Regions from separate parts of the Homo sapiens genome. Here region 2 is linked to region 1. Evidence: fine-mapped expression QTL. A gene starts in region 1. The other region holds a variant in brackets. All regions are shown on one strand. Distances are from middle to middle.

The links.
Region 2: its variant is fine-mapped to the expression of IL17D in esophagus muscle (GTEx, PIP 0.99).

Annotation. Positions count from the first base shown.
Region 1 is chr13:20,689,948-20,707,138 of GRCh38, reverse strand. It overlaps IL17D (interleukin 17D), which reads right to left and starts at 3,440. Exons shown (of 2, transcript NM_001385224.1): 1 at 2,848-3,440. The coding sequence starts at 3,137. IFT88 (intraflagellar transport 88) reads right to left here. Exons shown (of 26, transcript NM_006531.5): 25 at 16,324-16,434; 26 at 15,695-16,085. The coding sequence ends at 15,964. RefSeq lists silencers at 2,619-3,128, 3,419-3,558, 3,979-4,058.
Region 2 is chr13:20,834,259-20,845,578 of GRCh38, reverse strand. XPO4 (exportin 4) reads left to right here. Exons shown (of 23, transcript NM_022459.5): 5 at 1,693-1,809; 6 at 2,531-2,684. Among named protein-coding and RNA genes, the nearest start is that of XPO4, 63 kb to the left of the region's middle. The variant AT/T (reference allele first, on the strand shown) is at 4,636.

The DNA of each region.
Region 1 (17,191 bases):
GAGAGGTGATTGGAGGGAGGAGGGCAGAGAGGGCTCTCCTGGCAGGAAAATGCAGGAGCAGCTTTGGCAGTCAGCAATCTGGAGTCCCAGCCCAGCAGCCATCCCCTGAAGACTGTCCTTCCTTCAGCAAATATAAGCCACCCACCTCCGTTTGCCCATGGGGAGTGATCTCATCACTGTTGCTAAATAATATGAAAAATGATGCACATGACACCTTCAGCCACCCTGCTGCAGCTGCCACTCCTGCTCCTGGGACCACCCAGCACTGAGGTTCCACATGTGGGCAGATCTGGGTGGCCCAGACCACGATCCCCGAACCCTGTGTGTCATTCTCATCCATAACCTCCCTCGGCTCCCAGATCCTGCCTGGGGCGACATAGGTGTCATCTGTAGCAAGGGCAACTCAATTTAACTTCCCACACACAGAATGCCAGTGCTGCTAACTCTCCATGTGTCCTCCAGCCCTGCTCTGTCTCCTGAGCTCCAACCAGTCATTGTCACCTGTACGCCTTTCAGGCAGGCAAAACTCAACAGGCTTGTTACTAAATTCATTATTTCCTCCCACAACACTTGTTCCTAAGTGTATTTTCTCATTTTGCTCAAATACCATCAACAACCCAAGCCAGAAACATGAGAGACATGCCTTTGGGAGGCTATATACTACTCTTAGGCCCTTGGCCCAGCCTGTGGGGAGCCACGGGTTTGCCTGAGAGTTCGAATCTGCTATAGAAAGCAGGGCCAGCAGCTTCTGTCCAGAGAAGTTAATCTCTGGTTCTGAGAGATTCCTTATGTGGCTTTAATCCTATTTGGTATATCAGAAGCATAACACGAGGTTAGAGAAAGAAGAATGCCGTAGTCCATCCCTTCAGGTCCTGGAAATGGAGGAAGAGAGAGGAAAAGCAAGAGCACCAAGATACCAGAATGAATGGCGCCATGTGTGTGCCCTGCAGGCTCCAGCTGAAGGACAGGAGTGAGAAGGGCGGGAGGGGTCCCACCCAACTTCCCCGTGGGCAGGGGCTCTGAGGGGGCTCTGCCACAGTGAGCTTGGTCCTCTGCAGAGTAGCCAGGAGGCAGGAGGCCCTAAAACTTGGCTTCCCAGGACAGCATAGGGGTCCTGTGTGTTGTTGAGTAAAAGGAAATCTCCCTACCCAGCAGCCGGCAGGGAGAGGCTCCAGGAAAGCCCAGATGCGTTTTAGACAAAATCATCACATTTCCTCTGACTCTCCACAGCACTTGTCTTCTTTAATGAGCATCTTTCACGCTGATCCTAGTCTCCCCTTCCCACCGCGCTGCCTGAGTGAAGCCCTAGATCCTTTGGATGGAAGTGCTGGAGAGCATTGTCCAATCCATGCCCCATTGGGACACCCTCCTAAACCAGAGTGGCTGTATGGCTTCCTCCATCTCAAGTGTCAAGACTTTTTTTCTCTTTAATTTTTATTTTAGAGACGGGGTCTCGCTTTGTCACGCAGGTTGGAAGGCAGTGGCGCCACCACAGCTCACTGCAGCCTGAACCTCCCGGGCTCAATCTATCCTCCCACTTAAGCCTCTGGAGTAGCTGGGACCACAGGCACGTGCCACCACACTTCGCTAATCCTTAAAAATTGTTTGCAGAAATGGGATCTCGCTATGTTTCCCAGGCTGGTCTCGAACTCCTGGACTTAAATCCTCCTGCCTCGGCCTCCCAAAGTGCTGGGATTCCAGGCGTGAGGGTGAAGCTCTGCACTGCTGACAAGGCGGGGATCCAGCTCCTGCACCTGTCTCCAGCCTTACATCGATGCCCACCCCACAGGCAAACACCTCGCCTACGCCCCCCCACCCCCACCGCCCCCGCTCGCCTTGTGGCTCTCCCCATTTTCCAAGCGCTTTGTTCCCGCTTGCTATCAGCTGTCCCTTCCCTCAGCACTGCCTTTGTAGGCGACTTGCTCTCCTCCATCAAGACTCAGCTCTTTCACGAAGCCTTTCTTGACCTCTGTGGCCCTGGGAGGCCTTGCCCCCTAGGGCAGCTCCTCCTGCTCCAGCTAGAGGGAAGACGGTCACAGGTGCCTGCTGAGGACACTGCGGCACCCTGCCTACACGCCCCCAACTTCTCCAGCCTTCCCCTTCTGCAGGCTGTCCCTTTCTTCTGAAATGACCTCTGTTCCAAGACCAAAATACTCTCGAAACTGTTCATGTCACTTCATGCACTGCCTGATGGTGTGGTTTCTTTCCCAATTATCCCCACTCCTTCCTTAGGCTATTAAACTAGAGGGGCTCAGAGGGCGCTTCCCAGGGCTCCACTCCAGCAGCCTCTGGACCACAGGGGCACTCAGGAAATATGTGGATAGTACCGCGCACCCCCCAGCAGCACCTCCCCGGGCCCCCTGTGCAGAGTACGGTCCACATCACTGTGTCCACATCACGGAAGGGTCCCCAGCTAGTGCCTTGCGGACCCATCCAACCTGGAGGAGATGAGGTGTTCAAGAGATACGTGTTGCATAGGAAATACTGGAGGGTAAAGAGAGGAAGCAGGACTCCTTCAAGGGAGGTGGTGGGGGTGGGCCTTCGCAGTTTAGGAATTGCCCCCCAGTGCTCCAACTGCCCCGCCCCACCCCGCCTCATCGCAGCGCCCCTCGCACCCCACCCCACCCTACCGTACCCTACCCTGTCTCGCCCCGCACCACCCCACCCCTACCTGCTCCGCCTCGCCCCGCGTGCCACGCCCCCTCCGCGTCGCCCCGCCCCAACCACCTCCCCTTCCCCGCCCCACCCTCCCCGCCTGCCCGGCCTCGGCCCGGCCCCACCCACTCTCCCCGCCCAGCCCTGCCCTCCCCACCTGCCGGGCCCCGCCAGGACGCGCCCGCGGCTCACCTGTAGGCCCAGGGCGACACGCTGCGCAGGTTGGTGGGCGGCCGGAAGCGGCGGTCGGCGGGCCTGCCCCCTGCCGGGCAGCTCGCGTTGCGCGCCTGCTCACGCGGCCCCAGCTGCAGCGTGTGGTGGAAGGCACTGAGCACGCCGGCCGCCAGGCGCCCGTACAGCTGCTCCAGTAGCTCCTCCGGCCGGTCCGCGCAGCCCCGCGGCCGCGCGGGGCGCCTGCCCGCCCTCGGGGCGCCCGCGGCCCAGCTCGGCGGCAGCGCCAGCAGGAAGCCGGCTACCAGCATCCAGACCTGAGGGACAGGCCACGCTCAGCGTCCGCACGCGCCGGAGGAGCCCGCCTGCGCCCCGCGCCCGTGTCCCGCCCGCGGCGCCCGGAGCCGGCGGGCGCCTCCCCTCGCCCCGCGGAGCCAGAGGCCGGCCCGGAGGATGGGAGCCGCGCGGGCGGGCCCCAGAGCGCCCTCCCCGCCTGCCCGCCGCCCGCGGGGTCCCCGGGGCCCAGCCCGGCGCCGGCCCGCGCGCCCCCGGCCCCCGCCGCCGCCGCCGCCCCGAGCCGGGGGCCGCACGGGGGGCGGGTGCGGGGCGCGCGTGCACGTGTGCGTGTGCCTGCCGGGTTGCTGCGCCGCGGGCTGCGAGTGCTTGTGACCCGCCGCACCCTCACCCCCGGGCGCGCCATCCCTGCTCCGCCGCCAGCGAGGGAGCCCCGGAGCCTAAGACGCCCGGACCCGCCGCCTCGCAGACCCACCCTTGCCCCTGCGCCTCGTCATCCGCCCGCCCCAGCCAGCCCGCGCAGGGTCCGCGGCCCGCTTTTCCGCGAGAAGCCCCCTGTGGTCTTTCCTCGTACCCGGGGACTCGGACCGAGAAGCCGACTGAGCGAGGTCGCCGCCCGGCCTCACGGACACAGAGCGACTCTGCACCTTTCGCCTCCAGGAGCTGAAAACATTTTGTCACTTGTGCAGTGTACTCACCAGTGCCCCCAACATCTTCTCCCCCGAAAGCGCTTTCAGATTCGCGCCGAGATGGGGCGACGCGGCGGCTCTTGAGCGGAATAACCCGAAGGGCCACGCAAACTGGGGCTTCCAGCCGCGAGCATGCGGCGGGGCGCCCAGGGCCTGGGGTCGCGCGCTCAGGGCCTGTGCTGCGCCACGCAGGAGGAGGAGAGGGCTGGCCCTGCCGGGCGCGGGTGCGGGCCCGACTGGCTGAAGGAGGAGTGGGGACTGGCTTGGAAGTCTCCGAAGCAGAAAAGTGGGGCCGACAGGATGGAATTGGGGGAGGCCGATTTTGGCTCAGAGAGATTTCTCTATTAAGGAAAGCAGTCCAAGAATAGGCCCCCTGGAAGAGGAATGCGCTCAAACCCAGAGGGATTCTCCTTAGAGCTACCTCTTGAGATTCTGTACTTCGAGGAAATTAGAGGTTTTTTTAAATCTCTATTTTTAATAAGGTGGGAGGAGGCTGTTGCTCCTTTCTCCTCAACAACATGAAATGATCCTGTGCCTCTATCCAACAACTCTACAACAAAGCACTGAATACTTCCCTGACTGGCACTTTCATGGCTGTTCATGGGCATCTCTTGGTCTATGACGACGATGTTGGAGAGTTCCTACTCCGTGATAACTCAGTTCTAAGTGCAAGCAGTCACGTGAAATGAGCCTGATAGTCTGCGAATGAAGAAACTAAAACGAACTATATTATATACTTCATAACACAAGACAACGTGCTCGTTTGTTCATTCTGCAAGTAAATGCTTAATGCTTCCTAGGTGGCAGGCTAAAGAATATGATCATTTTAAAGCAGTCATGCTTTGAAAATAAACAACCCATCCCAGCTGTAAGCTTTTTGAAAGTGTACAAAATATGTAATTGATGACTCCCTAAATGGTTTGCAGCTTTGGTATTTGACTGAATTGTAAACCATTAGTTAAACTACATTTCAGTTATGCTTTGTAGGAAAAACACTTTCCTATGCATTGAATGTTCTATAACTAAGGAGCTTAGTAATCTACTGCTAAAAATCTCACTGAAATCTCCAGTTTAAGCGATTTAAGCAATTTACAGCTCTTGGCAAATATTTGTTTTGGGTTATAAAACACTTTTTTTCTGACTAGTAAATTGTTCATGTTCTTTGTTTCCAGTAAAATGGGAATAAAGGTTTCAGTACTCAAATACTGCTTATTTTTTATTGGAAAAAAGGAAGCGTGGGAGGCTTTTAAGAGAGTATCATTATGAGGGTTTCATAGAAATACTCAGTCTGTCTCATTTCAGCATCCATTCCTATATGAGGTGACATGGTACCAGACTTAGTTCTGTATGTTATTCAACAAAGTATTTTCCACTGTCTGGTAACATGGCAGCTTCTCTCTTCCTCACCACCCCCCCGGATTACCTTGGAAGTGGGAAGGAAAATATTTACTTTCCAGCAGTTTTCATTTTGTGAAAGATCACAAATGACTGAAAATGCTCACCTATTTGGCAGAACAAATTTGATATTTGTGAGACTAATCAGTTGAGAGTCATAAATAGGTGCAAATGTTTATGAGTTCCCCTCAAATTTCAACATATTTGTGAAGATGCAAAATAAGCATGTTAGTAAGTTCAAACCTAAGACATACAAGTGAAAAAAAGGGAACAACATACTCAAAAGCAGGCTCATCGTGTTCCCTTAAAACCAACATATCTGTAATGTGGCCACGCAAGCTTCATTTGAAGCCTCTCCAGTCCCTCATCCCCTGGTTTACTCAGCACACCCAATACCAGCACAGCTGCAAGACTGCTTAGCATGGGGCAAGCTGTTGGGGAAAATCTTTTAAATCATCCTTAGGCACCGTAACTCCAAAAGCCGGTGTGTGGTTGGCTCCTTCCATACTAATAATCTTGGGTTACTGATGTTCGTATCTACCCAAACCTCTTTCTCTTCCTTAAAGAGCTGTCCTTGAGGCCGGGCATGGTGGCTCACGCCTGTAATCCCAGCACTTTGGGAGGCTTAGGCGGGCGGATAACGAGGTCAGGAGTTCGAGATCAGCCCGCCCAACATGGTGAAACCGGGTCTCTACTAAAAAAAAATACAAAAAGCCGGGTGTGGTAGCGCATGCCTGTAATCCCAGCTACTCAGGAGGCTGAGGCAGAAGAATCGCTTGGACCCGGGAGGTGGAGGTTGCATTGAGCCGAGATTGCACCACTGCACTCCAGCCTGGGCAACAGAGCTAGACTTCGTCTCAAAAAAAAAAAAAAAAAAAAACTGTGCTTGGATGTTCCTACTGATAGCGCTCTCATTGCTGTCACCTTGCTGGTCACTCCCTTGATTCACTGATTTTAGCACCTGGGTCTACCACTATTCCTGCTGATCATTCCTGGCACCTTAACCTCCACAGAGACAATTTAACATGCTGATTTCCAAGTGACTACGTTAGCCCCAATTGTCTTTATTTCCCATCTCATCTCAACTGTCAAGTCATAGGGTCATATCCAAGGTTTCGTCATCACCAATAACTGCAATACAGCCAAACATCTGATTTCAAATATCCTATTCCTTGACATAGGTGCCTTCTGTTTTCGCCCACTCCTGCAGTTTTCTGCCGTCATCCAGCCTTCTCCCACTTCTCACTAACCGTTCCACCCTTGAGTCCTTATGTCCTTTCTTGTCTAGTTTAGATTCACAGTTCGACACTGTCGCCACGCCCTTGCAAACACCCTTAATCCCTTTCTCCTTTTTTCTCTGTTGTAATTGCCTAGAATCCCAACTCTTAAAAATCATACAACTGAGCTGAGTAGACTCAGTTCTGAGTTATGACCACAAATCTCAGATTAACATTCAACATAAGTATCGTATTACACCTCTGCAGTTATGGTCTTCTTCCAGTATCACTAATCTACATATTCTCTTTCCTCAAGTCTCTACTGCCCAATTCGTTCCTCACACCTTCCACAGACCACAGATGAGAGCTTTTACATTTCTTCCAACCAGCAAATGCACTGACTTACTCCCACCCAGTCTGATGTCTCCCACCTTCTTTCCTGATGCATTTGATAAACCCTTTCTTGACCCCAGGTCCCACTTGACTCCCCTTTACAGCAAAGGTTCTGAATTTTTATTTTGTTTTATTTTTGAGGTGAAGTTTAACTCATTGCCCAGGCTGGAGTGCAGTGGTGTGATCTCGGCTCACTGCAACCCCTGCCTCCCGGGTTAAAGCTATTCTCCTGCCTCAGCCTCTCGAGTAACTGGGAATATAGACACGTGCCACCATGCTGGGCTAATTTTTGAATTTTTAGTAGAGACAGGGAGGGTTTCACCATGTTGACTGGGCTGGTCTCAAACTCCTGACCTCAGGCGATCCACCGGCCTTGGCCTCCCAAAGTGCTGGGATTACAGGAGTGAGTCACCACGTCCGGCCTTGATGAGCATTCTTTTTCTATCCTTTCTTTTTCAACCTATCTGTGCCTTTAGACAGTCACATGTCTTTTACCAACAGGGATGCATTCTGAGAAATGTAAGGTGATTTCGTTGCTGTGTGAACACCCTAGGTTGTATTTAAACTGAGTATAGCCTACTATACAACTCGGCTCTGTGGGGTGTAGTTTAGGCTACAACACATCTAGGCTACAAACTTGTACAGCATGTTACTGTACTGCATAATGTAGGCAATTGTAACACAATAGTAAGTATTTGTGTATCTAAATATAGAAAAGGTACAGTAAAAATTTGGTATTATAATCGTATGGGGCCACCATCATATATGTGGTCTGTTTTTGACTGAAATGATGTCATGTGGTGCAGGACTGCATTTAAAATGTGTCTCTTGTAAGTAACATATAGTTGAGTCTTGTTTTTTAATAGTCTGATAATCTTTGTCACTTAACTGGAATATTCTATTTACATTTGCTGTATTTTTAAACATAACTAGCATTTACTAATTATTAATGTAATTGAGTTTGCATTTTTATAATTACTAATGTAACGTAATTACTAATATAAATAGGTTTAAGTCCTGTCTTGTTGCTTGTTTTCTCTTTGTTCATCTGCTCTTTATTCCTTTATTTCTCCTTTACCTGCCTTTCTTTGCATTAATCAAGTATTTTTCATCATTACATTTTGTCCTCCATTAGCTTTTTTATTTTTATTTATTATTTTTAGGCACGGGGTCTTGCTCTGTCACCAAGGCTGGAGTGCAGTGGTGCTATCATAGCCCACTATAACCTGGAGCCCCTGGACTCAAGCCATCATCCTGCCTCAGCTTCTTGAGTAGCTAGGACTACAGGTGTACACCACCACACCCAGCTACATTAGCTTTAAAAAAAACTTTTATTTTGAAATAATTTCAGACTTATAGAAAAGTTGTAAGAAGAATATGAAGGAACTCCACATACCCTTCACTCAGTTCCACTATTTGTTCACATTTCTCCACATTGCTTTTTCACTGTGCTTTCTTCTGGACCACTGAGCCATCGAGTTGCAGAAATCAGGACCCTTTGTCCCACAGCACCTCAGTGTGTATTTCTCAGGAACAAAGACATTCACTTATGTAACCGTAGTGCAATTCTAAAAATTAAGACATTTTACAAATACTTATCTAATGTAGATGGTCTCCAGCTTATGATTGTTCAATTATGATTGTTCGACTTTGTGATAGGCTTATTGGGACATAACCCTATGGTAAGTCGAGGAGCATCTGGATTTAATGATAGTTCAAGCTATGATTTTTCATCTTTATGACTGGTATAACAGAGTAATAAATGTATTTTCAACGTGTGGTGTTTTTTAACAATGGGTTTATCAGGACACAGCCCCATCATAAGTTGAGGAGCATCTGTACATTCCTATTCCCATTTCACCAGCTGTCTCTTTAATGTCCCTTAAAGCAAAATTCCCCCAGTCCAGGATCTCATCAAGGATCATGCATTACATTTTGTTGACATGTCTCTTTAGTCTTCCTTCCTCTCCCCTCCCCTCCCCTTCTCTCCCCTTCCGTCCCCTCCTCTTCCCTCCCCTCCCCCCTTCCTTCCTTCCTTCTTTCTCTCTTTCTCTCTTCTCTCCTTCCTTCCTTCCTTCCTTCCCTCCTTCCGTCCTTCCCTCCCTCCCTCCCTCCTTCCTTCCTTCCTTTTTTGTTTTTTTGACAGAGTCTCACTCTGTTGCCCAGGCTGGAGTGCAGTGGTGCAATCTTGGCTCATTGCAATCTCCACCTCCTGGATTAAACTGATTCTCGTTCTTCAGCCTCCCAAGAAGCTGGCACTACAGGCATGCACCACCAGGCCCAGCTAATTTTTTGTATTTTTAGTAGAGATGGGGGTTCCCGCTATGTTGGCCAGGCTGGTCTTGAACTCCTATCCTCAAGCGATCCAGCCGCCTTGGCCTCCCAAAATCCTGAGATTACAGGTGTGAGTCACTGAACCCAGCCTGCTTTAGTCTTCCTTAATCTGGAACAGTTCCTCAGACATTTTTTTGTCTTTCATGGCCTTGACATTTTTGAAAAGTAGAGGCTAGTTATTTTGTCAAATGTTCTTCAGTTTATGGTATTTCTTCATGATTCGGTTCAGGTTAGTTTTTTTGGCAGGAATATTGGCTACGTAATCTCATATCTTTTCAGTGTCTCACATCAGGGGCATAAGGATTTTATTCATCCCATTATTGGCTGTGTTCACTTTGGTCATGATTAAGGTAGCACCAGGTTTCTCCAGTATAAAATTTTTCTTCCTCTTATAATTAATAAGTAATTCATGGGGGAAAACTTTGGGGCTATGTAAATACGCTATTCTCATCAAACTTTCCTTCACTTGCTTTAGCAATCGGTGATGATTCTTGCTTGGATTAATTTTGTGGTGGTTGCAAAGTGGTGATTTTCATTTTATTTATTTATCTATTAGTTATTATTTATCTATTTATTTTTAGAGATAGTGTCACGCTCTGCCACTCAGACTGGAGTACAGTGGTGCCATCATAGCTCACTGTAGCCTCAAACTCTTGGGCTCAAGTGATCCTCCCACCTCAGCCTCCTAAATAGCTGGGACCATAGGCACTTGCCACTGTGCCTGGCTTATTTTTTAATTTTTTGTAGAGACAGTGTCTTGCTTTGTTGCCCAGGCTGGTCTCAAACTCCTGCCTTCAAGCAATCCTTCTGCCTCGGCCTCTCAATGTGCTGGGATTACAGGCATGAGCCACTGCACCTGGCTGATTTTATCATTCTTTCCATATTCATTAGTTGTACCATTACTCTTTTAATTGTACATTCTGCAAAATACTCCTCATTATGGTCTAGCACTGTCTGAATGATATAAGAAACTTCATTTAATACCCAGTCCCAATCTTTGGACTAGTATTGTCATTATTTTATTTCTATGTATCTTAAAATTCCACAAGGCATTATTATTGTTGTTTTAAATAGTGAATATTCTTTCTTTTATATATCCCCATACCTTTCTGGTGCTTTTCATTATTTTTCAACTTTGTGATCAGTTTCTGTCATTTCATGCTTCTTTCTAGGATCATCTTCCTTTAGCCTGTAGGACTTTTTCTGTGGACCTAGTCTTCTGGTAATTAATTTTCTCAAATTTTATTTGTCTGAAAAATTTTTTTTTTTTTTGAGACGGAGTCTTGCTCTGTCGCCCAGGCTGCAGTGCAGTGGTGCGGTCTCAGCTCACTGCAACCTCCGCCTCCCAGCTTCAAGTGATTCTCCTGCCTCAGTAGTTGGGATTACAGGTGCCTGCCACCACACCTGGCTAATGTTTGTATTTTTTAGTAGAGACGGGGTTTCACCATGTTGGCAAGGCTGGTCTTGAACTCCTGACTTCAGGCGATCCACCCTCCTCGGCCTCCCAAAGTGCTGAGATTACAGGCATGGGCCACTGCGCCCGGCCTGAAAACTCTTTAACTTTAAAGTTTATAGGATATATTCACTGGAATATAAATCTAGGTTGGCAGACTTTTAATTTGTTTTTCAGCACCTTAAGGATACCATTTTATTGTCTTCTGGTTCCTTAGTTTTATTGAAAAGTTAGCCATAAATCTTATTAATGTTCCTCTGAAAGTACTGTGTCCTTGTAATTCTGCTTATCTTAAGGAAGTCGTGGGTTTTAGCAGTTTGAGCACAATGTAACCACAGCGTGGTCTTCTTTGTATCTCCTTGGTGCTCACTGAACTTCCTAAATCTGTGGCTTTATGTCTTTTTCAATTTGGGGAGATTGTAGACATTATCTCTTCTAATGTTAATTCTACCCTATTCTCTCTTCCACTCCTTCCGGGATTCCCATTATAATTATTTAAACTCTTGACTGTGTCCCAAGTGTCTCTTGTCAGCTGCTTTATTTTGCCAGTCTTATTTCTCTTTGCTTTAGTTTGGATATTTTTCTATTGACCTACTCACTAATCCTGACATCTGCTGTGTCTGGTACATTGTTCAATCCATCCAAGTAAGTTCATTTCAGATATTGTGTCTTTCAGTTTTAAGTTATTTGACTCTTTTTCACAGATTCCAACATTCAATTGAAATTTTCCATCTTTTTATCCATTTTATTAACTTAACACACTAGTCACAAAGTCCTTGTTTGTTAAATCCATTATCTGGATTTTCTAGAGGACTGCTTCTATTTATACTTTCTCTTGATTGCTGGTCATATTTTCTTGACTCCTTGCATTCTAGTAATTTTTTTTTTCTTGAGACAGAGTCTCGCTCTGTCGCCCAGGCTGGAGTGCAGTGGCGCGATCTCTGCTCACTGCAAGCTCCACCTCCTGGGTTCACGCCATTCTCCTGCCTCAGCCTCCCGAGTAGCTGGGACTACCGGTGCCTGCCATCACGCCTGGCTAATTTTTTGTATTTTTTAGTAGAGACGGGGTTTCACCATGTTGGTCAGGATGGTCTTGATCTCCTGACCTCGTGATCTGCCCGCCTTGACCTCCCAAAGTCCTGGGATTACACGCATGAGCCACTGCGCCCAGCCACAGTAATTTTATTACATGCCAAGCATTGTATATATAAGAACCGTAGAGACTGCAAATGATATTCTTACCATAGAAAGGTCCTCTTTCCTCTCTTAGGCAGAGAGAATTCAGGACTAATTACTTCAATCCAGTCAAGGATTGAGTTGAGTTGCAGGGTCTCCTTCTGTTGCCCAGGCTGGAGTGCAATCACAGCTCACTGTAACCTTGAAGTCCTGGTCTCGAGTGATCCTCCTGCCTCAGCCTCTCGAATAGTGGGGACTATAGGTGCATGCCACCATGCCCCGGCTAATTTTTTTATTTTTTGTAGAGACAGGGTCTCACTATGTTGCCCAGGCTGGCCTTGAACTCCTGGCCTCAAGCAATCCTCTTGCCTCAACCTCCAGAAGCACTGGGATTACAGGCATGAGCCACCTCACCCAGCCTGGGCTGCAGTTTTTGTATAAGGGTCAGTCCACCGTTGATTCATGTTTGTCCTTCTAGGCTTTTGATTAGGAGCCTAGATTTGTCTCCTCAGCTGAGAAAGATGGAAAAAGAGTCAAGTTGGTCCCTCCAGGTTTTGACTTTAGATTGTTAGCCTCCTGCCCCCATGCAGATTCAAAAAATAGCAAATATCTTTTTTTTTTTTCTTCAAGACGGAGTCTTGCTCTGTTGCTCAGGCTGGAGTGCAGTGGCGCAGTCTTGACTCACTGCAACCCCTGCCTCCTGTGTTAAAGAGATTCTCCTGCCTCAGCCTCCCAAGTAGCTGGAATTACAAACGAGCACTATGCCCAGCTAAATTTTGTATTTTTAGTAGAGACAGGTTTTTGCCATATTGACCAGGCTGGTCTCAAACCCCTGACCTCAAGTGATCCATCCGCCTCATCCCAAAGTGCTGGGATTACAGGTGTGAGCCAGTATGCCCGGCCCCCAAAATAGCAATTATCTTGAGGGTAGACTAAATAGCAAATATCTTGTGGAAAGCCTTTCCCCCTAGCAGGACATCGTCCCCTAAGAACTATGGGAGATTTAAGCCCTTAAAACCTCCATCCCAGTTCCCTAGCCTCCAGCATTACCCCAGCTGAAGCAGCACTCCAGCAAATGCCCCATGGTGGAAAGCCAGCCATACATTTGGGGCTTCTCTAAGTTTCCAGTTTGTCATGCCAACCCCAAATGACCACCTTAAAAGCTCTGTTAGTTTCTCTAGATGACGCCTTTTCCCTGAGGAAAGTGCAGTTCTTAGCCCATGCCTAGAACTGGTGAATGTCTCCAGAAAAACAGGCAGGATCAGCAGTTCATTTAGAAATGGCTCTTTTGGGCTGGGCGCAGTGGCTCACGCCTGTAATCCCAGCACTTTGGGAGGCCGAGGCGGGTAGATCACGAGGTCAGGAGTTCAAGTCCACCCTCTGGCCAAGATGGTGAAACCCCGTCTCTACTAAAAATATAAATATTAGCCAGGCATGGTGGCAGGTACCTGTAATCCCAGCTACTTGGGAGGCTGAGGCAGAGAATTGCTTGAACCCAGAGAATTGGGAGGCAGAGGTTGCAGTGAGCCGAGATCACGCCACTGCACTCCAGCCTGGGCGACAGAGGTTGCAGTGAGCCGAGATTGTGCCACTGCACTCCAGCCTGGGCGACAGAGCAAGACTCTGTCTCAAAAAAAAAAAAAAAAAAAAAAGGCTCTTTCCTCTCTGCAATTTTTAGTTTTATTGATTCCACAGATCTCCAGAGACTTTGAAGACATGATTTTTGCAATGATTTGTTTTTTTTTCCCAGCTGCTACGGAGGGCTTCCATGACCTACTGCATCCTTCTCAGAACTGGAAGTTTGAATCCTGAAACCTCCTACATCACTTGTTGCTCTTCTCAGTCTCTTCTGCTGAGCCATCCTTTTTCTCTGGTACTCACAAGCACATTGCTTATACTTCTTCTCTAGCCTCACTCTCAGACCTAATTGATCTCATTCAGTTTCATGGTTTTAAGTACGAAGTGTACATAGATGGATCCCACATCTCTACCTGTAGCCCTCACTTCTGTGACCTCCAGATTTTAAAGATTAACTGCATTCTTCGCATCTCAAATTGAATGCTTGAGACAAATTTAACATGGGTAAAACACATCTACTTATTCCCCCCCAAATCTATCTTACTAAAAAGACAACACTAGCCACTCCGTTCCTTAGCCACAAATTTTGGCATCATCTTTTCCTCTCTTTCCCTCACAATCCACATCCAATCCATTAGTAAGTCTCAGCTCTGCCTCCAAATATATGCTGAATCTGACCACTTCTCACAATTTTCTATTGCTAAAAACCTGTCTCAATTGCTTTCATCTCTTACCCAGGCTACTGCTAGTAGTTTCCACTCTTCCCTTCCATCCCACTTGCCCACTTCATCTTCATGGCGACCAGTGTGATGACTGGTTTCTAAAGGTTAAATGAAAGCACTTCACTCACCCCCCTTGCATGAAACCTTCTAGCAGGTGTTCTATAGTAACTAGAATAAGATCCAAACTGTCTTTATAAGGCTGTACATGCTCTGAACCCTGCCTACCTTTTGGATCTCATCTCCTTTCCCTTTCCTGCCCATGTAGCACACCACCCACACTGCTGGATCCCAAACCCTCTCACTATCACTGTAGCTCAATAACCCTGTGACACATCCAGATCATTCATTTTTCAGTGTGCGGCACTTGCTGCTCCTTCTGCTCAGAACACTGCTTTCTTCTCACCATTCTAGTGTTATTACCAAGGCCACCTCTTAGAGTCCCTCCTCTATAATCACTACCTATTGCATTACTCCATTTTGTTCTCTTAACTGTAATTAACAATATCTAGAGTCCTTTAAAAACATATTTTCTGGCCAGGCACGCTGGCTCATGCCTGTAATCCCAGCTCTGGGAGGCCAAGGTGGGTGGATCATGAGGTCAAGAATTCGAGACCAGCCTGGCCAACATGGTGAAACCCCGTCTGACTAAAAATACAAAAATTAGCCAGGTGTGGTGGTGCGTGCCTGTAATCCCAGCAACTCAGGAGGCTGAGGCAGGAGCATTGCTTGAAACCAGGAGGTGGACGTTACAGTGAGCCAACATTGCACCACTGCACTCCAGCCTGGGCGACAGAGTGAGATTCCATCTCAAAAAAAACCCAAACAAACAAACAAAATATATTTTCCATCTCCCCACCAGAATTTAAGCTTCTTGAGGGCAAGGTATAGTTCTTTTTCACTACTGTATCCCCCAAATTTTAATGAATTCTCTGCACATACTGGATGTTTACTGTATTTGTTGGCTGTCTCATCAATTAGAGCATAACCTACTTTGGGAGCAAGGAATGTGGTCTAGTTTTGGTTTTCCTCCCTCGCATCTAACAGTAGCATGCACGTTGCAGAGACAATGGTAAGTAAGATTGAGGGGTCCATTCTCTTTGGTATAGTGTTAGAGATAAGCCACTGCTTCTGACATCCTCGTCATTATAATTCCTCTGGAGACTCTAGACCAGCCAAACACATTGTTAAAGAAAAATGCAGGCAGTCCTGCCCCCAACCCACTAAGTCACAAATGGGAAAAGCCATCTTAGAGTTGTTACTGCTCTGTGCTATTGGTGCACACCCCCGGGCTGAAGTAGAAAGGAACTTCGGAAAGGAGCACTAGGGTTATGGTTTGGTATTTAATCCCATTACCCTTTATACTGCTTCCAAAACATAATTGTTTTAATAGTGTTTCTAATCCCCACAAGGCAAATCTTCCAAAGAATTTCCAAACTCCAAGCAATTTAAGTATGAATAGAAATTGTGCCTATGTCCACACAGCATTTTTCAATCTGCAAGCCATGAAATCAATGTAGTGGCTTCACTACTAGCACTTTGTTTGAATGAAACTATAGAAAATATTAGCATGTATTGCAATAATAAGGGTAAATTTTTATGACTACATACACATATATGTACTAGGTTGTGTTATGAAATTTATTTCTTCCTGTGTGTCAATGTTTTCAAAAAGCTAAGGAAGTCACTGGCCTAAAGTATTAGTTTTACCTGTTTTTATTCCTTAAAAGAAAAAAACAACTTAAATGCATACATACAGAATAGAATACACTTACTTAAGTTTTGACAGTGAAAAAAAATAATTACAGGTTAGATATTTAATCCAAGGTTTAACATGAGGATGATCTCATAAGGCAATTTCTTTCCTTTAATAAATATTAAAGTGAATATTATTCTGGAAGCAAATCATCTCCTAATTCTTCATCAGCAAAATCATCCTCATCGATCCTTTTCTTGGCTGCAGTTTTTGGTCGTTCTATTTGAGGGCCAAGTGGGTCCACATAGGAGGCATCTAGGTTTCGAAGAGATTGTCACGTTAGAGTTATGTAAACAAACAAAACAAATGTGAAACCAATCAGGCTCATAGTCAAAATGAATAACTCAGAGTGAACAGAAATGGTCTCCCAAGTCATTTTAAATTTTATCTGTAAATATCAAATTCTTAAGAATTCCCAGCAACACCTTTTGGCCATCTCACCATTCTTCTTCAGACCTGCTATGCCTGGAGGAACTGGGTGGAGAGTACTTGCCTATTTCTTTGTTACTGCTACTTTCATAAGGTTCATTTGTCCCAGGTAAAGCTCTGAGTCTGGCACTTAGTCGTTCACCTTTACTACTGGCACTATAGTTCTGGCCACTATCTGAAAACACGAAAATAAAAATGCATTTGTTTAATATGTTGAGAAAACATAAAACTACATTATGCATCTTAAAGCATACTTATTTGCCAAGAAACAAGCAGGTTGTTTAATTTGGAAGCCAGCTTCTTAGGGATATAATTCTTGTTTTCTGAAATTTAAAAGAAATATCTTGTGGGAATCTATAATATAGATAAAACATCACTTAAGAGTAGTCTGTATATGTATTCTTTCAAATGTGTGCTTACTTATAGGTTTCAATTTTATGGAAGAACTTAAGAGAAAGTAAGAGATCACCCTGACTCTTATAATTGCCCAAATAGGCAATGGCTGCCTTAGGAAAAAATGTAATATGTATCACTGAGGATTTTCAGATAAAACTGAACACTAACATTAGTAGGAAATGTTAGTAGTACTTTTTAACCAGAAATTTCTGTGATATTTTCTAAAAGTACTCCTCTAGCCCCACAGTTTTCCTTTCTTCCCCTTAGAATTCCTAGAGTGATATTTTTTCTATTATGTAAGCCTCACTTTTAATGAGAGTAGTCCACTGATAAACACACTGACCATTTCGTTTTTGAATATAGTTTGTCTTTTAGTTTACTGATAATGTCTCTGGGAATAAATCAGAACAAGATGGTCTTTAAAATCCCCACATTTTAAGATTGGCCAACTGACCCAAAATAGTAAGTCTTCTCTAAGGTTCTTATCCAAAACCTTACCATTTCCCCTACCACTGATGTTACGGGAAAATAAAGCT
Region 2 (11,320 bases), 140 kb before region 1:
TGTGATCAACTGTTTTTTTCTGTGAGAGGCCTTAGTGCCTGGCTTCTTTGTCTCCAAGTGCCTGGGGCCATACAAAGGCAGTTAAATGGGTTTCTTGAAGATTTTGGGAGGAAGGGACATTTTTATATTAAGTCATGTATATTTTGAAGTAAAATTACAAAATGTGTGTGTTTATGCCAAACCAGTAACATTCAGAGAACTTTTATTGTTGCAGAAGGCATCTTTGATCATACCCCTAGATTCGCTAGAGAATTTGCATTTACTTCCAGGTGTGGAAAAGTCTGAGAAACTTCTTTAACATATGGGGTTTTGTGCCTTTCATAAATATTAGCTATATAGTCACGCTTGTTTTAGTTGAGATTAAGAGGCAAATAGGAATTTAACTTTATGTTTACTCTTTTTTCTTTGAGACTTAGTCTTACTCTGTTGCCCAGGCTGGAGTGTAGTGGCGCGATCTCGGCTCATTGCAGCCTTCGGCTCCCAGGTTCAAGCGTTCTCCTGCCTTGGTGTCCCAAGTAGCTGAGACTACAGGTGCCTGCCATCATGCCTAGCTGATTTTTTTGTATTTTTAGTAGAGACAGGGTTTCACCATGTTGGCCAGGCTGGTCTCGAACTCCTGACCTCAGGTGATTGCCTGCCTCGGCCTCCCAAAGTGTTGGGATTACAGGCATGAGCCACTGTGTCCGGCCTATGTTTACATTTTTTAAAGAAAAATTTCAGACATATACAAAATGGACAGATAGTCTATTAGTCACTCATGGAACCATCAGTCACCTCTCACCTTCAACAGATATTTCCTGCCAGTTTTTAGGAATTTAATATCATTAAGTTATTTGCTAAGATTTGCCAAGATAAGTATCTGTAAGGTCAAGGTACTGACATCAGAAGCATTTCTGAACAGAGATGTTGCAGTTGGTGGGTGGGTATGACAGTGTTCAGCTGTTGGATAAGCTTGCATAAATAGTATCATCTTGACTTTAATCTTTCGGTTGTTCAGAGGTAGTGTGCATATTTCTGTTTAACTCCTGGAAAGTTGCCAAAATAATTTGTATCCTCTTTCCATCCTTTGTACCTTGACTGTTTTAGTCTGGGAATAAAATCAATGAGTTGATATTAGGAGCCTGTTGGATAGAACCAATGAGAAGAAAAATCTTCATTTTTCTATTTAAAAAACTTTTGGGTATTACCTGGCTATAATATTTTGGACACTATAAAATCTGTTTCACTTTTCATCTATTTGGGAATGCATTTTACAAACAGAACGGGGTCAAACATGGGTTGAAATCTCAGCTGGCCTTAGATAAGTACTCCAGGTCACTTCTCTCAAATGTAAAATGAGGATATAGGTTGTTCTGCGAATTAAACAAAATAATACCTTCAACATTTATTATTTTTAAATATCATTTGAATTCCACTATTGAGTAGGAACAGTGTGTCCTGAGTTCAAGTCTTAGATGGATTTGTATAACTGCATTTGAGGAAGTACTATTAACACTGACCAGACCACTTAGAAAGGAGAGCTAATATTTATTTTGTCATATCTGATTTTCTGACTAGTTGTTATAAGATCTAAAGATACAGTGGAAGATCTAAAGTTAGGGAGAAAATGTTCTATTATGTTTGAACAAATGCATTGAAACAAAGCGTTGAAACAGTAATGCCTCACAATTATTTCTTATCAAATAATTACAGCAAACTCTGGCCTGTTCTATTCTGACTGCGCTATTGAGTGAATTTTCAAGTTCAAGTAAAACTAGCAACATTGGATTGAGCATGGAATTCCATGGTAACTGCAAAAGAGTTTTTCAGGTATTGGTAGTTTTGTTCTTGAGTTTTAATTATTGGATCATTCACTTTTTACTCAATCTATTCCTAATGACATGAGAATATTTATTTTATGTAGTTGAATGGTAGCCTGTACTTCAGGATTTGTTTTGTGATTTCAAAGGATATAGTAAAATGATAGGTTTGGTGAATGTAGTTGATGGTTTAAAATTACTTGTTTAATTCTAGTCTTAAAAACAATACTTCTATAAAGATCTTTAGTTTATTATTTATTTCTTATTGTGTTTAGATATAACTAATTCAATTGAAGGGACTCTGCTGGCCTTAAAAATAGGTCTGGAAGAATGCCAGAAGGCCGTGTATTTCAAATGTTATTGCAGATGGTGCGGGCTCTTTGTCTTGTATGTATTGTTTGGCTCTGGAGTAAAGTTATGTGAAGGCATTGGCTTAAATCCTAGGGCTCTGCACTATAGCAACTGACTCCTCTGGCTCCGCAGTAGTTGTCAAAGACTCTCTTCTCTATGGAAGTAGCATTTATATTCAAGTAAAAGTATTCCATCTGGCGTCACTTGAAAGCATACTGCGATGTAAATTACAAGTAGAGGCCTAAAAATGGAACACGTTCTTAAGGAAATGGTGTTTTCCATTGGAAATTTTAAGGTGTTTGTTTTGTTTCATGATTCTAAAAGGGGATACATTTTGAATAAATTTTTCATATAAAATATTTGTGATTTATTGACTATAGGAAGAAGACCTTCGTCAGATCTTCATGTTAACTGTTGAAGTTCTGCAGGAGTTCAGCAGGCGGGAAAACCTCAATGCTCAGATGTCTTCAGTATTTCAGCGTTACCTTGCACTCGCCAATCAAGTCTTGAGCTGGAACTTTCTTCCTCCAAATTATATCCTTTTAACAAATGAATAGTTTATCTGTGGTAATTTTCATAGGTGACTTAATTACAGCTCGGAGTCTTTCACCTCTGCAGCTTTCATAAAACATATTGAAAGAAAATAAGATTTTTTTTAAGAAATAGAATTTAATTTCTTTATAATGCCAAAAGACAGTGGATACTAGGATAATACTAGAAGATTTAAAAGTATTTACTCCTTTGTAGAAGAAGTTTGAATACATAGAAACGTGGTGGATGACGGAGCTGTTGCTAATTCAGGATTAGCATTATTCTTTGGGAAGGAAAAGGAAACAGGTAGAAATTACCTTTTAAGAAACCGAATCATTTTTTCCTTGGACAAGTAATTATGTTTGATTTTTTTGACTGACTTAAAGCTAGTTTGGAGTGCTCTAATTTAATCTTTATGGATGGTGATGTTGTTCAAGTATAGGTAATAAGTTAGTAATATGTTTACTCTTCAAGGGCCTTTACCAGTATAAAAAAATGAGAATTTTGTTTTTAGGAAATTATTCAAAAGTTTAAGTGGGTTGTATTATCAATGCATATATCTGCTTTTTAAATTAGTTACTTAAAGTAGAGAAATTTGTATTTCATAAACTTTAAGGAACTGCTGTCTCATTTACTATGCTGGGACATCTGCTGCCCGTTGATAGTAATATACAGTGACTACCCATTTGTTGTGTAAAGTCCAATAGATCTGGATTCAAGGCTCTGCTCATCTTAGGCAAATCACCTGAACCTCTCTGAGTCTCAGCTTTTCCAAATGTAAAATGGGGGTATGGATTGTTGTGTGAATTAAATGAAACAATACATTTAAAACACTCAGGAGTTAGTTACTATTTATTGAGCTCTTAATAGCCTCCGTGAATTAAATAGTTCATTATATAACTAACTGTCTTTTATACTCTTCTTTGTTGAACTAATACGCCTCTGTGTGGTATAGGAAATTTAATGCGACCTGTTCTAGATGTTTTTAATCTGAGAGTCTGTTCAGGAGAAAAAGACTGATGATAAGCAGACAGGAAATAGATGTGAAATCAGATCAGAGATCTAGTATGGGACTCATTTTTATTGTAACAAGAGCCAAGAGGAGCTACATTTACATATACAGAAACTCGCTAATTATTTGTGGCTGGTAAAATTATGACATTTAAAGGAGTGTGGTGGGGTATAACTCCTTCTTCCATTTAAACTTAGTCTATTCACGTAGTAGAATATTAACTGTGAAGGGCTCTGTCAGGTAAAGTGAGTCTGACTCGTGAGCTCTCCAGGTTTCTTTCCCAAAAGCAGTCACTGAGCTGCTGCATTATGGGGCAAAGCTTACAGTAAGGTCAGTCACTGTTTCCTTTTATTCTTATTCTGTAATCATCTTTCTCCCAATAACCAACTTTTTATCTTTAATATATTAACTTAATTCTTTTTGGTTGTCAAGAGGTGGCTACTTGCTTAGGTTTGCTTTTTAAAAAATTTCCCCTTTCAGTGTTTCAATATTTTTGTTCTAGGTTTTTTGTTTGTTTGTTTTTTTAAATAAAGTTGGTAAGGCAGGCTTTATTCAGGGGAGCCAATGGTGATAGATGTGGGGACCACCACAACAGGATCTTGCAGTTGGGGAGAGAGATTGGATTCAGCTTCTTGCTCCAGTGTTTTCAGTGGGGAAAGAAAAGATATTGAAAAACCTTGAGACATATTTTAAAATTAGCAGTCCATATGGAGCTATCAAAATATTAATTATATATGTAGGGAAAAATCAACAAAAGTTACACTGCATATATTTTAAAGTGTCTGTTTTAAGGGAAAATACAGTTGGTAGAGAGTGACTATTTTATAAAAAGAAATAGTTCTCTGGGAGTTTGGAAACAAAGCTTGTCTAAAAGATACACACACATAAAATATTTTATAAAGTACTTAGATAAAGCTTTGGAAAATCTGTCATCTGAAAATG[AT/T]AAGCAATACTGCAGTGTTGCCAAAGGAAATAATTCCTTGTTTAAAGAAAGTATATCTTGGTTTTTGACTTGAGGATATTTTGCTTCATGGCTTATGAGTGAGTTCTTGTGTGACCTTTTCATATAGTGCCATTTGTTGGCTGACTGCACTACAGCTAAGTATTCTTTGAGTGGATTAGCTTTAAGTGTGGGAGAAAGAACTTGGCAGTGAGATTAAACTAAGCTACAGATTTAGCACTCATTAGGGAAATCAATTTCAAGGAACTCAATTCTGACTAATTTCTAATTTTGGAAATTACCTGGAGATCTACCATTCAATCAGTAAGGAAAAGAATGGAATAATTATGCAGCCTTGTACCATGGAGAGGGTCTAAATAATCAAATTTAACTTAGTTTAAAAGTGTTGAATTGATGCCTTTTAAAAGATGGTTTATCTGCTGGGTGCGGTGGCTCACTCTTGTAATCCCAGAACTTTGGGAGGTTGACATGGGAGGATTGCTTGAGTCTAGGAGTTCGAGACCAGCATGGGCAGCATAGCACAACCCTATCTCTACAAAAAAATACAAATATTAGCTAGGTGTGTGGTGTGTGCCTGTAGTCCCAGCTGTTCGGGAGGCTGAGGTAGGAGGATTGCTTGAGCCTGGAAGGTTGAAGCTACAGTGAGCCATGATCATGCCACTGCACTCACCCTGGGCGACAGAAGAGACCCTGTCTCAAAATAAAAATAAAATAAAATAAAATAAAAGGTGATTTGTCTCTTAGGATAGACAAATAATAAATCATGGAAAATTTGTGTATTTAGTGTTAAATATTTTGATAATTTAGAATGGTATGTTAAATGAGGCTGTGTTAAATTATCAGTAACAATCCCCCATTTATTAATTTTTTCTAATCTGCTTTCTTTTTTGTATCTATATTTTATATTGAGATAATTTTATTTTTATTTATTTATTTATTTTTGAGAAAGAATCTTGCTCTGTTGCCTAGGCTGGAGTGCAGTGACACTATCTTGGTTCACTGCAACCTCTGCCTCCTGGGTTCAAGCGATTCTCATGCCTCAGCCATCCAAGTAGCTGGGATTATAGGTGTGCACCACCACACCCAGCTTATTTTTATATTTTTAGTAGAGACAGGTTTTATCATGTTGTCCAGGCTGGTCTTGAACTCCTGACCTCAGGTTGATCCACCCACCTTGGCCTGCCAAAGTGTTGGGATTACAGGCATGAGCCACCATACCTGGCCCTGACTAATTTTTTTATTTTAATTTTTGTGGAGATGGAGTCTTGCTGTGTTGGCTAGGCTGGCCTCGAACTCCTGGCTTCAAGTGATTCTCCTCCTTCAGCCTCCCAAAGTGCTGGCATTACAGGCATGAGCCACCATGCCCAGTCTCAATAATAGTTTTATTGAGATGTAATTCACACACTATACTATATACCCATTTAGAATGTATAATTCAGTGTTTTTTAATATATTCATAGAGTTGTACAGCAATAATTGTCAGTAGTTTTAGAACATTTTCATCATCCCAAACACAAGCCCTGTGTCAATTAGCAGTTAGTCTCCATTTCCACCTTCCCCAGTCCGTAGCAACCACTTTCTGTCTATGCATTTACCTATTCTAGACATAGCGTATAAATGGAATCATATAATATGTGGTCCTTTGTGACTGGCTTCTTTTTGAGACGGAGTTTCACTCTGTTTCCCAAGGTGGAGTGCCGTGGCGCGATCTCGGCTCACTGCAACCTCTGCCTTCTGGGTGCAGGCGATTCTCCTGCCTCAGCCTCCTGAGTAGCTGGGACTATAGGCACACACCACTACGCCCTGCTAGTTTTGTATTTTTTAGTAGAGATGGAGTTTCGCCATGTTGCCCAGGCTGGTCTCGAATTCCTGTCCTCAAGTGATCTGCCTGCCTCGACCTCCCAAAGTGCTGGGATTACAGGTGTCATCCACTGCACCCATCCTTGCTTCTTTCACTTAGCATAATGTTTTCAAGATTCATCCATTTTGTAGCATGCAGCATCCATCAGTTCTTCATTCCTTTTCATTGCCATAATATTGTATGGATATACCACTTTTTTAATCCATTTATCAGTTGATGGACAGTTGGGTTGTTTCCACTTTTTGATTATTATTAACAATGCTGCTGTGAGCATTCATTTATAATTTTTGTGTGGGCTTAGGGTTTCATTTCTCTTTGGGAGGCCGAGGTGGGAAGATTGCTTGAGGCCAGGAGTTTGAAGTTGCAGTGATCTATCATCACACCACTGCACTCCAGCCTGGGCAACAGAACAAGACCAAAATGTAATTTCTTTCTTTTTTTTTTTTTTTTTTTTGAGATGGAGTCTTGCTGTGTTGCCCACGCTGGAGTGCAGTGGCATGATCTCGGCTCACTACAATCTCCACCTCCCAGGTTCACGCCATTCTCCTGCCTCAGCCTCCTGAGTAGCTGGGACCACAGGTGCCCGCCACCACGCCTGGCTAATTTTTTTGTATTTTTAGTAGAAACAGGGTTTCACCCTGTTAGCCAGGATGGTCTTGATCTCCTGACCTCGTGATCCACCCATCTCAGCCTCCCAAAGTGCTGGGATTACAGGCGTGAGCCACTGCGCCCAGCCCCAAAATGTAATTTCTTATAGAAAGTACTGTATTAATTGTGACTGTAAAATATTGGGAAAACCAGCTGAAGCTGACTGAGCAGTGGCTGTAGGATGTGCATAGAGAGATACTGACAAAATAATGCAGAGTAAATATTTAGATATTAATATTTAAGGGCATTAATGCTATCATAGTTAATAGCTTGTATTACAGTGTTCTTAGGTCAAGATTTACGCTCATGCAAAGTTTCATTAATGAAATCATAACTTGGCTGGGCGCAGTGGCTCACGCTTTTAATCCCAGTACTTTGGGAGGCCAAGGCCGGTGGATGGCTTGAGCTCAGGAGTTTGAGACTAGCCTGGGCAACATGGCAAAACCTCATGATGTGGTTTGACTCTGTGTCCCCACCCAAATCTCATCTTGAATTGTACTCCCATAATTCCCATGTGTTGTGGGAGGGACCCCGTGGGAGATAAAGTCATGGGGGCAGTTTCCTCCATACTGTTCTCGTGGTAGTGAATAAGTCTCACAAGATCTGATGGTTTTATCAGGGGTTTCCACTTTTGCATCTTCCTCATTCTCTCTTTGCCTGCTGCCATCCATGTAAGACGGGACTTGCTCTTCCTTGCCTTCTGCCATGATTGTTCCGTGTGTCCCCAGCCACGTGGAACTGTAAGTCCAATTAAATCTCTTTCTTTTGTAAATTGCTCAATCTCGGGTATGTGTTTATCAACAGCCTGAGAATGGACCAATACACCCCATCTCTTACAAAAAATTAGCCAGGCATGGTGGCACACACCTGTAGACCCAATTATTTGGGAGGCTGAGGCAGGAGAAGTGCTTGAACCCGGCGGTCAGAGGTGGCAGTGAGCTGAGATTACGCCATTGCACTCTACCTCTAGCCTGAGGGATAGAGTGAGACTCTGTCTCTAAAAAAGAAAAAAAAAGGAGAAGAAAGAAAACAAATCATAACTCTTTAACATTGATTCTCAACTAGGAACAATTTTGTATACTTGGGACATTTGGTGGTGTCTTGAGACAATTTGGATTGTCACAACTCGGGAAATGCTACTGCCATCTATTGGGTTGAGGCTACGGATGCTGCTAAACATCCTAAACATCCTACAAAGCACGGGACAGCCCCACACAAGCAATTATTGGGCCCAAAGTATCAATAGTCATCCACACAAAAACTTGTACATGAATGTTCAGAGCAGTACTATATGAATAGGCTATTCATAATACTATATGAGTAGAAACAACCCAAATGTCCATCAGCTGATGAATGGATAAATAAAATGTGGTATACCCATATAATGGGAATATTACCTGTCATAAAAAGACATGAATTACTGATACATGCTACAACATGTGTAAACTTTGAAAACATACTGAGTGAAAAAAGCCATTCACAAAAGACCACAAATTATATGATAACATATTTATGAAATGTCCAGGATGGGCAAATCTATAGAGACAGAAAGGTTAGTGGTTACCTAGAACTGGAGTGATTGGAACAAAGTAGGAGGTGACTGCTAAAGCATATGGGGTCTTTCTGGTACCATGGAAATGTTCTCAGATTAGATCATGGTCGTGGTTGCACACATCTGTGAATATGCTAAAACCATTGAGCTGTACACTCAGTGGGTAAATTGCGTAGTGTGTGAATTATGTCTTAATGAAGCCTTTAAAAATACCCATCATGTCACGGTGTAGAAACCCACTTCACACAGGTCAACTGCACCATTAGTAGAATTATAGAGGGAGATTAGGGGTGGAGATAAAGTTGTGGGAGAGTGGGGCCATTGAAGTTAAGGAAATAGGAGAGGTGGTCCAAGAAGGAGCAGAGGATCCATGTCAGGACCTTTAGGTGCATCAGTAGTGAAAAAGCAGGAAGAAGCAAAAGAAAATAAGAAAGCCAATTAAGACAAGTGGATGGGAGAACAAGGCAAGGAGTGTTTGGAAAGCAAAGATAGATGATGTTTCAAGGAATCAGGTAGTCAACATCGTCTGTTACCGATAGGTAAGATGTAGATTGTTTTTGATCTACACCGAATATCAGTTAGAACATAGTTGGTCATATGGAAGTCTGTTTATGTGAATGACAGGGGCAAAAGCCGTATCTCAGTGATCAGGTAGTAATTAGTAATTGATGAAGTATAGAGTGAAGTACAATTGACCCTTGAACAATGTGAGGGTTAGAGACACCAACCCCCATGCGGTCAAAAATTCCAGTATAACTTTTTACTCCCCAGAACGTTTTACTAATAGCTTACTGTTGCCTGGAAGACTTACTGATAACATAAACGGTCAGTTGGTACTTATTTTATGTTTTATATGTACTATAATATATTCTTAAAGTAAGTTAGAGAAAAGAAAATGTTGTTAAGACAATTATAAGGAAGATAAATGATATTTAGTGTTCATTAAGTATAAGTGGATCAATCATAAATGTCTTCATCTTCGTCTTCTAGTTGAGTAGGCTCAGGAGGAGGAGGAAGAGGAGGGGTTGGTCTTGCTGTCTCAGTGATAGTAGAGACAGAAGTGGAGGAGGTGAAGGGGAGGTAAGGAAAGGAAGGCACACTTGGTGTAACTTCTAGTGAAAGTACAAGTGGACCTGTGCAGTTCAAACCTGTGTTATTCAAGGGTCAACTGAACTATATAGATATTTCGAAGAGCATCAACTGACAGCTCAAGGGAATGGGGGTTTGTGCCAAGGAAATGTTGTTTTATGCTTTAAGCTTAGATGAACCTGTTTATTGCTTGAGGGGAGAAGTCAGGATTTCAGAAAGAAAATGTGATATTGTGGTGTTAGGCCAATGACATAGATGTTGAGATAGCCCAGGGCGTGGTTGAGGTAGGCAGCCCTGTGGTAGTGTGAACTGCCTGCCTTGATGATCCATACTTCTTAGCTATTAAGTGCTGATTTGACCAGCTTTGTCTAGGTTTCTTTCAAAATGGAGGAACACAGTGGTAGAAGTCAGCATGAGGGAATTTTATTTTATCATTATTTTTTTAAACTGATAGAATTGCAAGGAGAGTGATGGAATTTTAAAGCACATATATGTAAAGCCCTTGTGAAGTATTTTCTTCTGTCCTCTCTTTTTTTGAATAATCAGTATTTCCTCCAACTATTGTCTATTTGTACCTGGCATTGTACCCTTTAAAAAGAAAGTAGAGGCAGCACATGGTGGCTAACACCTGAATCTCAGCACTTTGGGAGGCCAAGGCAGGAGTATGGCTTGAGCTTAGGAGTTCAAAGTTACCTTGAACTATGATTGCACCACTGCACCCCAGCCTGGGCAACAGAGGAAGACCTTGTCTCTTAAAACAGAAACAAACAAAAAACTAAGTTAAGTTTTCTGATTTTTAAAAATTATTATTTATAGAGATAGGGTCTTGCTCTGTCACCCAGGCTAAGGTATAGTGGCATGATCATGGCTCACTGCAGCCTTGACCTCTGAGTTCAAGTGGTCCTCCTGCCTCAGCCTCCCAAGTAGCTAGAACCACAGGTACACATCACCACACCTGGCTAATTTTTAAATTTTTTTGTAGGGCAGGATCCCACTATGTTGCCCAGGCTGTCCTCAAACTCTCCTGGGCTCAAGTGATCCTCCCGCTTTGGCATCCAAAAGTGCTGGGATTACAGGCATGAGCCACTGGGCTTGGCCTGGATTTATTTATTAAAGGTTTTTTTTTTTTATTTCTTTCAACACTGTTTTATAGTTTCCAGAGCAAAAGATTATTAAATTTATTCTAAGTACATTTTTTTTTTGAGACTGGGTCTCGCCCTGTTGCCCAGGCTGGAGTGCAGGGGTGTAATCATGGCTCTTGGCAGCCTCGACTTCTTGGGCTCAAGCTATCCTCTCAACTTCAGCCTCTTGAGTAACTGGGACTATAGGCACGCATCATGATGCCTGGCTGATTTTTGTAGGGGTTGAGTTTCGCTGTGTTGTCCAGGCTTGTGAGTATTTTTTTATTATTCAATTGTAAATTGTTTTTTAAATTTCATTTTCACACTATATAGAGAAAAATACAAATGATTTTTGTATGTTGATCTTGTATCCTGTAATCTTGCTGAACTTGCTT